2 separate regions of the Homo sapiens genome follow, and region 1 is linked to region 2. The links come from fine-mapping of genetic effects on gene expression. Tissue or cell type: cerebellar hemisphere. Region 2 holds a variant in brackets; the other region holds the start of a gene. All regions are shown on one strand. Distances are from middle to middle. Region 1 holds the start of AFF3 (ALF transcription elongation factor 3). Region 2 has its middle 16 kb from the start of LINC01849.

Region 1 (5,383 bases), 450 kb after region 2:
CAAGCAGTTTACAGAATAGTGAGGTAAACAAACAGAATAACCATCATGATAATCTCCACCACTTACTGAATACTTATGACATCCTGCACACACACTATGTTGTTTAATTTCTACAGTCACTCTATGAGTGGGTACCGTATAGACGAGGAAGCTGAACGTAACATCCCCAAGTTACCCTTGCTAGTAAATGATAGAGGCTGAACCCAAACCCAGGTCTTTCTGGAGGCAGAGCCCACCCTCCTGACCATCAAATTGCCCATAGTATCATCTAACATGAAGGCAATGGCTTCAGCCCGCACAGGTGAGGAATTCTGCTTTGAGATGAGCAGGATGGAAGGGTTTTTAATATCCATGGGGATCTGCCAGATAGCCAATGGAAGTGAAGGCACCCTGAAAGAGGAAATAGCATGTGCAAAGCTGTGACATAAAGCAGCCTGAAAGTTCAAGAAACCATGAGTGGTGGTGGGATTGTTGGGTGGTGAGGAAGGAAGTGGTATCAAGGATGGCAAGAGATGGTATTGGGGAGTGGGCAGAGGCCACTGAATCCAACATCTCGCCTGCCCAGCGATGGAGCCTTGGGATTTTCCTGTGGGTGACAGGGAGCCATTGAAGCGTTTAAGGACTGGTCGTGGGGTGAGGGGAGTGTACTGTCATCATTTTTGTAGTCTTTTGCAGAGAAAATTTGGAGGCAGTTTGGAAAACACTCTAGAGCCTGACATGTGAGAGATGAGTTAGGAGGTCACGTGTCCCCACTTTTCTAATTTTGTATCTTCTTCAGCAAAAAAGTCTTTGCCGCCTATTCTGAGCAGATGTATGATTATTCACAAATGATATACAATACAACTGTATTCACACATTGCATGCCTTGAAACATACACAAAATGTAAACACTAAAAACATGACGTAAAAATAGATGTAAGTCTGGGAACTCGATGGAGGTGGTGGCTGCACAGCATTGTGAGTGTACTCAATGCCACAGGATTCCCCATCTTAAAACGGCTCATTTTATGGTATGTGAGTCTTAATTAAATACAAAAACCAGACAAGTGTGGGTAGATAGACATTCAATTCCTTTCTTCTCATCCTTCAGTGAACGGTCTGGTGTGCCCTGGGTGCACGTACCCCTTGGGGATTAGGGCAGTGATGAGAGGCAATGGAGGGAGGGTGTGGCTGTGGAGATGCGGACGGGAAGAAGGATCTGAGGAGTGACTGAAGAGGTAGAATGGGCAGGGCTTGGTGATGGAAGGTTGAAGAGTATTCAGCAAAGAGAAGAACGTGGGAAGCCTCCCCATTTCTGGTTTGGGTATAAGATAAAGAAACGTTTTCTCCTTGCCAGGGACATGAGGCAGACAATACTGGGATAATTTCCCAGGGCTTGGGATAGGACTGGGTGGGGAAGTTTCTAGGTATCCATTCTCAGGATAAGGACGGGCCTGTTTGGATGAGGATAATGGAGGGTCAAACCTGAAGAAGCCAGATTAGCAGAGGCAAAGTGAGAGATCAGAAGGTGGTAAACTCAGAAGGGGGTAGAGACCTGAGGAGCAAGCTGGGACAAGGCAGGAGGGAATTCACAGGCCACATGGTAAGTAATGAGTGGGGTAGAGGACAGAGCAGGGTTTCATTGTGGCGAGTCTGACGGGAGGTGCTGGGGGATGTTCCAGGAGAACAGCAGAAATGTGTGATGCTATGGATGTGGGCTTGGCAAGTTCCATCTGGAGCTGGGAAGAGGCCACCCATGGAGAACAGGAACCATGAGGCGGAGAGTGGAGCTTGCAGGAGGGCGAAAATTAAGACCAAAGAATGGAAGCCTGCCAGTGTGAGAGACCGCCTGACAAAAACCAGGAGAGTATGGAGTCATGGCGGCCCAGGCAGAAGTTCTGGGAGGAAAGAAATGGTCAACACTACAGGGAAGTCAAACACTGCCAGTGGAGACAAATAGGACAGGAACTGAAAAAGCATCCATTAGTGAATCCCTGGTGTCATTAGTGAAAATAATTCCAGGCATGAATGGGGAGAGGGAAGGGTGTCGGGCAGGAAGTCCAGTGCCCGTGGGTTGACTGAATGGGAGATGAGGAGGTAACACCCATCATGTAGGTCATGTAGAGCAGCCTTAGGACATCTGATTCCTTGCCTAAGACTCTTCTTTCCTGGTGTAGCTTTGTTCTAGAAAGGTCTGGAAGACTTGTCACAGTTCCAATGCAGGATGAGCCTTTGGTCCTGATCTCTTGGAGGCCCAGACAGCCTGGGAAACCAGCAGAGCTTTGGACAAGTTAAGCAGCCCATTGAAATCAACATTCTTGATAATCATATATCTAAGAGATTCCAAAATGTTCCTGGGATTCTTTTATGGGTCTGCATAGGGTTAGAAAGCACAGGAGTCAAAGAGACCTTCTCCCTTGGCCTCCAGGGCCACCATCCTCTGCTTTTGTCAGTTGGTCTCCCCAGAGTAGAGTCCAGGTTCCTGCTTCCAGCCTTCTGGTAGACCAGGCCCTGCCACAAGTGAGAGTTGGCCGGTTGGGTATCTGGTTTAGTCACTCGCCTCCACACTTTCACATCCTCTATCAACACCTGCACACTTGGGTTGTGACCACACATGCTCTTCCTGTTTGTACAGAAAGTGCCATTCAGAAAGCTCGCCAGCGAGAAGAGAGCTCCACGCTCAGCCTCAGAAGAAAGACGTTCAACGACTTACTGGGGAGAGAAAGAAAAGGAACGGGAGCTGAGAGGTAAGATCAAACTGGAGGGTGTGCGGGCCCTCTAGGATGCCTTGCCTGGAAGAGAGGTAGCCCCGACTTTGTGTCCTGAAGGGTGGCGCTCTAAGTAGCTGTGCCCATGCTCCGCTGGTCAGGGCAGGGGGAGCATTCTTGGTCAGCCTCACCGAGATGGTCCAGGCCCTGGTGAACAGCCAGAGGGATTGAGAAGGAAGAGATGGGATGTGACCAAAGTTGGTCACTGAAGCCGTCAGTGTGTGTGCGTGTGCATGTGTGTGTGTGTGTGTGGTAGAGGGTGCACATAAAGAAGACATAACCTGAGTGTGAACATGCTCACACACATATTTATGATGCTGGCTGGGGCCTTATGAAAAGTGTGTCTTAACCTCATGTTGCTCATTAGCTATAACCTCAAAAATAGAAACCATGACATGGCCACAGACTGGATCCCAGTCAATGGCCCCAGTGAGTGAGCTTGCAAGGAGAGATCATGGGCAGTTCCACCTAAGGCCACCGTCACTTCTGCAGAAATGACTTGGAATAATGACCTCCTCACTGTTAGGGGCTAACAGCACTATATTTGTATTTCTTGGATGGAACATTGTATATGTGTGTATTTGTGTGTGTGTGTCTGTGTATGTGCATAAACACATCATGTATTTATACACATGACATTGTGTGTATGTGTGTTTATGTGTGTATATATATGTACACACACATATGATATAATGCAATATACACAGTGACCAGATTTTTGAAACCAAAGAGAACTAATAGCAAGACAAAGGGGTTTTTTTCCTAATATGTGATTTCCTTGCTATTCGAGTCTCACATATATAAAAATGAAATATGTCTACACATGTGTTTCATAATTCCTTTTATTCAAAGAGGGGATCATTCAGGTAGCTAAAGGTCAAGTGTTTACAATAACAAAGTGGTGGTAAACTCATTCTTTGAATGTTGATCGTACAAACTAAATAATCCATCAAAAAATGTTGTCTCTGCCATTATTAAAAGCATGTGTTCCTTGGTGCAAAATTTAAGAATGTTCTAACTACAAGAGCACCTTCCTTTACCTAGGGCTATCCCATCTCACTGTTGAAGTGAAGTGATTACAGTGAAAGTAATACAGACATTTAATATTCTTAGTTTTGGTTGTGTTTCTGTCAACTGCTATTCCCTTGTTCTAGGCGTAACTGCACTTAGTGTTTAGTGGTGTTATGCATATGTATATTTGATTTGCATTTAGAAAATAGAAAAATATATACATTGCTTATTTTCCAGATTTCAAGGTTTAAATTCCCACTCTAACATGATGGTTTTAGGCAAGTCACTATACATCTCTGCATCGGAGTTCCCACATCTGTAACACAAGTACAATAGTAGATAGTAATCCCTTCCTCTTAAGAATTAAATAAGCTAATACATGTAAAGTGCTTAGACAAGTGCCTGGAACATTGAAAGGGCTCAGTAAGTATTAGCAGCTGTTATCATTGTCATCATCATCATCATCATCATCACTACCTTTTGTACAATTAAGCCATCAAACTTGAAGGGACATGGTAAGAGTTTGGGAAAGGTGAAAGGTGGGAGGTGGTGTGTGTAAAATGGGTTTGGGGGGTGACACTTAAGGCCAGAGCAGTGACATTACAGTCCTTACACTGTAGCTACAGACAAGTAGTGAGCAGGAAAGAGGAACAGCACAGAACACCCCTCCCTATGAGGCCTGCTTGTGAGAGGAACATGTTCTGGAGCTCTGTGGGCTTGATGACATGTACTCATACACATCTTGTACAGCAAACCAGGAAATAGGCACATGGAACGGTGACATCCAAATGATAGTATATAACATGCATTCAGTGCCTCTCAGGTGTGAGACGTGGTGCTCGGCATTTTACACACATTTTGTTATTGTATCTGAGCCATTGCAATTATGCTTATTTTAGAGGAGAGATTGGTAGGTAGCCTAAGAGTGCAGAGCAGGGAAATAGCAGCGTTGGGATCTGACCATCTCCAGATTCTGTGTCCCAATCCCCCACCCATCACACCCAGAATACAAAGCAAGTAGTAACAAAACGTGACCAGTGAGGACGTCCAGTTTCAGAGAGTTTAAGAAACAAGTTCAAAGTCACAGAGAAAGCTGAAGGCATGGTGAGGAGCTGGATGCTGGTTTCTAAATTCCAACCATTTTTTCTACACCACTACTCAGAGGAAGGACCTGATGTCTTGCCTATCAAGGTTGACAGCTATGGACCCTTCCATAAATAACTTTTATCTTCTGCACTTCCACATCTTTTTCTGTGAAGTGGGTGTAATGTCCTGTCCTACAGAGTTCACAGGATTTTATGAGGGCTCAATGAGTCTACATACGTAAAATGCTGTTATATTATTTCCGAGTCATGTAAGGAAAACGTGTTGAAATCCACCTTCGGTAAAGGCAAGTTAAATGGAAATGAAAAGTATAAATAATGTTGGTTCTTAATGACATGTCATTAGGTATGATTTAACTTGTTCTTTCAAATGACCCATTTGCACCCTCTGGAGCTGATGTTCCATAATTTGTGCAACCATTCCCATATATGAAAATTTAGTTGATTTCCGGTTTTTGAATATCACAAGTTAAATTGCAATGACTGTTCTAGAAATCCTTTAGTGCAATCATCCTATCTGTT
Region 2 (5,381 bases):
CAAAAGAGCAGTGGTTCCATTTCTAGATTGTGGATCTTCAGATAAATTCTACCATTTTCATTTCACTTTCTGAAAGTCAGGGTCGGCTTGTGAAAAGTTGTTAAACAACATGCTAAATGTGAAATGTCAACCCTCACTCCAAACTTTCCCTATTCAGAGCATGAGATGAAGACTTCATTGGGTTTTATAGTGGCTTTCTGATTTCTGGTAGTCCATTGAAGAAGAGAGTTTGAAAGTTGTTGTATACTGTTAACGATTGTCTGCCCATGTCCTGCCTGAAATACCATGATTGTTTATGGAAAGTATCTTTAATAAAGCTGCATACAGTTTGGCTTGGGAAAAAAAAAAAATAGAACCAAACTCTGTGCAAGTTCAGACTCATGCTGCACCACCAGCATCCACACTGGGTCATCTGTGAAGTCCTTCTCCAAGGCACACAGACAGTTGCTCAGCCTTTGCGTAAGGACAGCCCGGAAGTGGAGGGCAGTTCACTCCCCTGGGGCACCCTCAAGTGGTGGAGGCCAGGGTTGGGTGATAAAGCAAGATCCTCTCTGTGGGTGGACAACTCTGGGAGGTCATCTACATGCTTCTTAGAGGTTTCAAAGGGATTGAGTTTCCGCTGCCACCAGCCCTGACCTCACATTCCCACCCTTCTGTCAGCTTTTCCCTTTCCCTGCCTCTGTCTCTCAAAGCTCTCATGCCTTCATCTTTGTTTTTTCTGTTTTGTTTTGTTTTGAGAGACGGAGTCTTGCTCTGTTACTCAGGCTGGAGTGCAGTGGCACAAACTTGGCTCACTGCAACCTGCACCTTCCGGGTTCAAGGGATTCTCCTGCCTCAGCTTCCCAAGTAGCTGAAACTACGGATGTGCACCACCACACCCAGATAATTTTTGTACTTTTTAGTAGAGACGGAATTTCACTCTATGTTGGCCAGGCTCGTCTAGAATTTCTGACCTCAGGTCATCCGCCTGCCTTAGCCTCTCAAAATGCTGGGGTTACAGGCGTGAGCCACCACACCCAACCACATGCCTGCATCTTTGGATCTCCTCTCGAACAAACTGTACCCAAGTCCCCGCTCAGGCTCTGCATCTGGGCAGACCCAAACTAACACCTATGTGTCCCTTTAGTTCTGGCACTTTACTATAGACACATGACAATCAAGAACTGAGTACCACCTTTCTTACAGGATTACAATTTCCTTTTTTTTTTTTTTTTTTTGAGACAGAGTCTCTCTTTGTCAGCCAGGCTGGAGTGCAGAGGTGTGATCTCACTTCATTGCAACCTCCGCCGCCTGGATTCAAGCAATTATCCTAACTCAATCTCCCAAGTAGCTGGGATTACAGGTGTATTCCGCCGTACCTGGCTATTTTTTGTATTTTTAGTAGAGACAGGGTTTCACCATGTTGGCCAGGCTGGTCTTGAACTCCTGACCTCAAGTGATCCGCCTACCTCAGCCTCCCAAAGTGCTGGGATTACAGGGGTGAGCCACCGTGCCTGGCACAATTTCCATTTTGATGTGATTCATGAACTGCCATATTTTAAAATAAATTTAATTTTTTTAGTATAGTTTTAGATTTGCAGAAAAATTCAGAAGCTAGTACAGTGAGTGCTCATATATCCTGCACCAGTTTTCTCTCCTCTTAACATCTTACATGAGCATCGTACACCTGTTACAATTAATGAATCAGTATTGATACATAATTAGTAACTAAAGTCTATCTGCTTTCAGAGTTCTGTTGTTTCTGACTGATGCACTTTTTCTGTTCTAGGACCTTATCCAGGACACCATATTCCATTTACTAGTCAGGTCTTCTTAGGCACCTCTTGGCTATAAAAGTTTCTCAGATTTTCCTTGTTTTTGATGACGTTGATAGTTTTTCTAGTCAGCTATTCTGTAGAATGTTCTTCAATTTGGACTTGTCAGATGTTTTTGTCTTAATTGTGGTTTGGTTTTTTGGAGGAAGACCAAAGAAGTAAAGCGTCATTTTCATTACATCATACCCAGGGTCTGTACTACCAGTATGACTCATCACTGTTGATTTTGACCTTGATCACCCAGCTGAGATAGTGTTAGGTTTCTACACTATAAAGATACTCTTCCCAGCCAGGCGCGGTGGCTCACGCCTGTAATCCCAGAAATTTGGGAGGCTGAGATGGGTGGATCATTTGAGGTAAGGAGTTCCAGACCAGCCTGGCCAACATGGCAAAACCCCATCTCTACTAAAAATAAAAAAATAAAAAAATTATTGTTGGGTACCTGTAATCCCAGCTACTGGGGAGGCTGAAGCAGAAGAATCACTTGAACCCAGGAGGCAGAGGTTGCAGTGAGCCGAGATCGAGCCACTGCACTCCAGCCTGAGCAACACAGCAAGACTCCAACTCAAAAAAAAGAAAAAAAAAAGGTACTCTTCCCACCTCCCTTTTCATATTGTACACTTTGGAAGGAAGTTGCTATGGACAACCCACCCTTAAAGAGTGGAATATCTTAAGTAGAGTATCTCTACGTTATTTGGAATGCTGCCTGGGCGATGGTCTCTTCTCCTCCACTTATTTATTTATTTATTTATTTCCATTCATATATATATATATGTGTGTGTGTGTGTGTGTGTGTGTATACATATATATGGGTTTCTTTGTGTTTTTTGTTTGTTTGTTTGTTTGTTTAGCTGAAGTTTCGCTCTTGTCACCCAGGCTGGAGTGCAAAGGCGTGATCCCGGCTCACTGCAACCTCCACCTCCGGGGCTCAAGCAATTCTCCTGCCTCAGTCTCCTGAGTAGCTGGGATTACAGGTGCTTGCCACCATGCCTGGCTAATTTTTGTATTTTTAGTAGAGATGGGGTTTCACCATATTGGCCAGGCTTGTCTTGAAATCCTGACCTCAGGTGATCCTCCCGCCTTAGCCTCCCAAAGTGTTGGGATTACAGGTGTGAGCCACGCGCCTGGCAACTTATTTATTCAATCATTTTTTTATCAGTATGAACTCATAGATATGTACTTTATATTTTGGGTTATAATCCAATATTTATTATATTGCCCAAATTGTTCCGGCTTTAGCTATTGGGAGATCTGTCAGTTGGCTCCTGGACCTCTGACGTACTCTCATCATTGTGGTTTTGTGTTTGTTTGTTCAGCAGTTTTTTGTGTTCTGGAATTACAAGATGCTCCAGGCTTATCCTGTATATTTCCTGCTTCAGTTTTAGAATCAGCCATTTCTTCAAAGAGCA[T/C]TGGTTCCTTTTTTGGAGAAAAATCAAGATCTAAGTGGCAGGTATGTTCTTTGCTACTGGGGTGTCATTCCTCTTTCAGCCTCCCTCAACTGACAGAGCAAGGAAATGTGCGTGTGTATACTACCCAATGCATATACATTACCTAAATATTTCTGTTCATAAGCATCTGTATCTATATTAAACTAAACAGGAGTGGCCAGGCACGGTGGCTCATGCCCATAATCCCAGCACTTTGAGAGGCAGAGGCAGGTGGATCACTTGAAATCAGGGGTTCGAGACCAGCCTGGCCAACACGGTGAAACCCTGTCTCTACTAAAAATACAAAAATTAGCTGGGCGTGGTGGTGGGCACCTGTAATCCCAGCTACTCGGGAGGCTGGGGCAGGAGAATCGCTTGAACCAGGAGGTGGAGGTTGCAGTGAGTTGAGATCACTCCGCTGCACTCCAGCCTAGGCGACAGAGCGAGACTCTGTCTCAAAAAAAAGACAAAACCTAAACAGGAGTTCATAGTGATGACTCCAACTCTAATCTATTACCACATGGATTATTCTCACTTACACTCACCTTTGCCCCCCACTTATCTGTAACCTCTCATGATAACAGTGAGAAACCTGGCTCCCACCATCTGCCATCTATGTATTTAACTGTTCGATTCTCTTTATATGTATAGCAGTGTTACAACTGTTAATTCACACCCATGTGATAAATGACTTTATCAACTAGAGACAGGGCTTGTGTACAGCTTCTTTTGCCCTTCCCCTCATGGACTCATTTCCAGTGCTGCTTAGGTTAGCACATTTCCCCCAGCCCCCTTCTGTGAGGCTGTTTCATACATTTGTAATGCAGTTAGATTGTCTTGCCCCATTCTGCATTTCATCCAGGCATTCCCCAAACCCTCTAAAGATTTTTTGAAATTTGCATATATTAAGATTCACTCTTTGTGCCATGAAGTTCTATGAGTTTTGACGAACCCCTATTACCATCTCTCCACCATTATTGTATCATTCAGAATAGTTTGACTCCCTAAAAGTGCCATGTGCTTTACTTATTCAACCCTTCCACTCTCCCCTGAACCCCTGGTGATCACTGATCTTTTTACTGTATCTACAGTTTTGCCTTTTCCAGAATGTTATGTCTTAGTCCATTTAGTGTTGCTAGAAAGAAATACCAGAGGCTGGGTAATTTATGAAGAGGTTTATTTGGCCCACAGTTCTACAGGCTATACAAGAAGCATGGCACCAGCATCTGCTTCTGGTGAGGGCTTCGGCCTGCTTCCACTCATGGTGAAAGGTGAAAGGAACCAATGTACAAAGATCGCATGGCGAGAGAGAGGGGAGGGAGGTGCCAGGCTCTTTTTAACAACCAGCTGTCACGGAAATTAACAGAGTGAGTACTCATTCCATTGTGCATACCCCCTTCCCTTCCAGGGAGGGTGTGTTAGTCTGTTCTCATGTTGCTATAAAGAAATACCTGAGACTGGGTAATTTATAAAGAAAAGAGATTTAATTGGCTCATAGTTCAGTTCTGCAGGCTGTACAGGAAGCATGATGCTGGCATCTGCTTCTGGGGAGGCCTTAGGAAGCTTCCAGTCATGGCAGAAGGCAAAGGGGGAGTGAGGTGCCTCACGTGGTGGGAGCAGAAGCAAGAGAGAGAGTGAAGAGAGAGGTGCTATGCACTTTTAAACAATCAGATCTTACAAGAACTCCCTCACTATCAATTGTGAGGACAGTACCAAGGGGGATAGTGCTAAACCATTCATGAGAAATCCACCCTCATGATACAACCACCTCCTACCAGTCCCCAACTCCAACACTGAAGATTACAATTGAACATCATGGGATCTGGGCAGGACACAGATCCAGACCATATCAGAGGGTATTAATCTATCCATGAGGGATCCACCCCCATGACTTAAATTCCTCCTATTAGACCCCACTTCCAACACTGGGGTCAAGTTTCATCATGAGGATCAGGAGATAAATATCCACATCCCCTTTCAGACTGGCTCATTTCACTTAGCATCCGTTTTGTGTGTGTGTGTGTGGTTTGATAGCGCATTTCCTTTTGAAGCAGATACCATTGTCCTGATATACCACAGTGTGTTTATACATTCATCTATTGATGAATGTTTTGATTGTTTCCAGTTTTGAGCGATAATG

What was found. PIP is the estimated chance that this variant, and not a neighbour inherited with it, causes the effect.
Region 1: AFF3 starts here. The variant in region 2 is fine-mapped to the expression of AFF3 in cerebellar hemisphere (GTEx, PIP 0.97).

Annotation. Positions count from the first base shown.
Region 1 is chr2:100,139,827-100,145,209 of GRCh38, reverse strand. AFF3 (ALF transcription elongation factor 3) reads left to right here and starts at 2,620. Exons shown (of 25, transcript NM_001386135.1): 1 at 2,620-2,726.
Region 2 is chr2:100,584,882-100,590,262 of GRCh38, reverse strand. No RefSeq gene overlaps it. Among named protein-coding and RNA genes, the nearest start is that of LINC01849, 16 kb to the left of the region's middle. The variant T/C (reference allele first, on the strand shown) is at 3,224.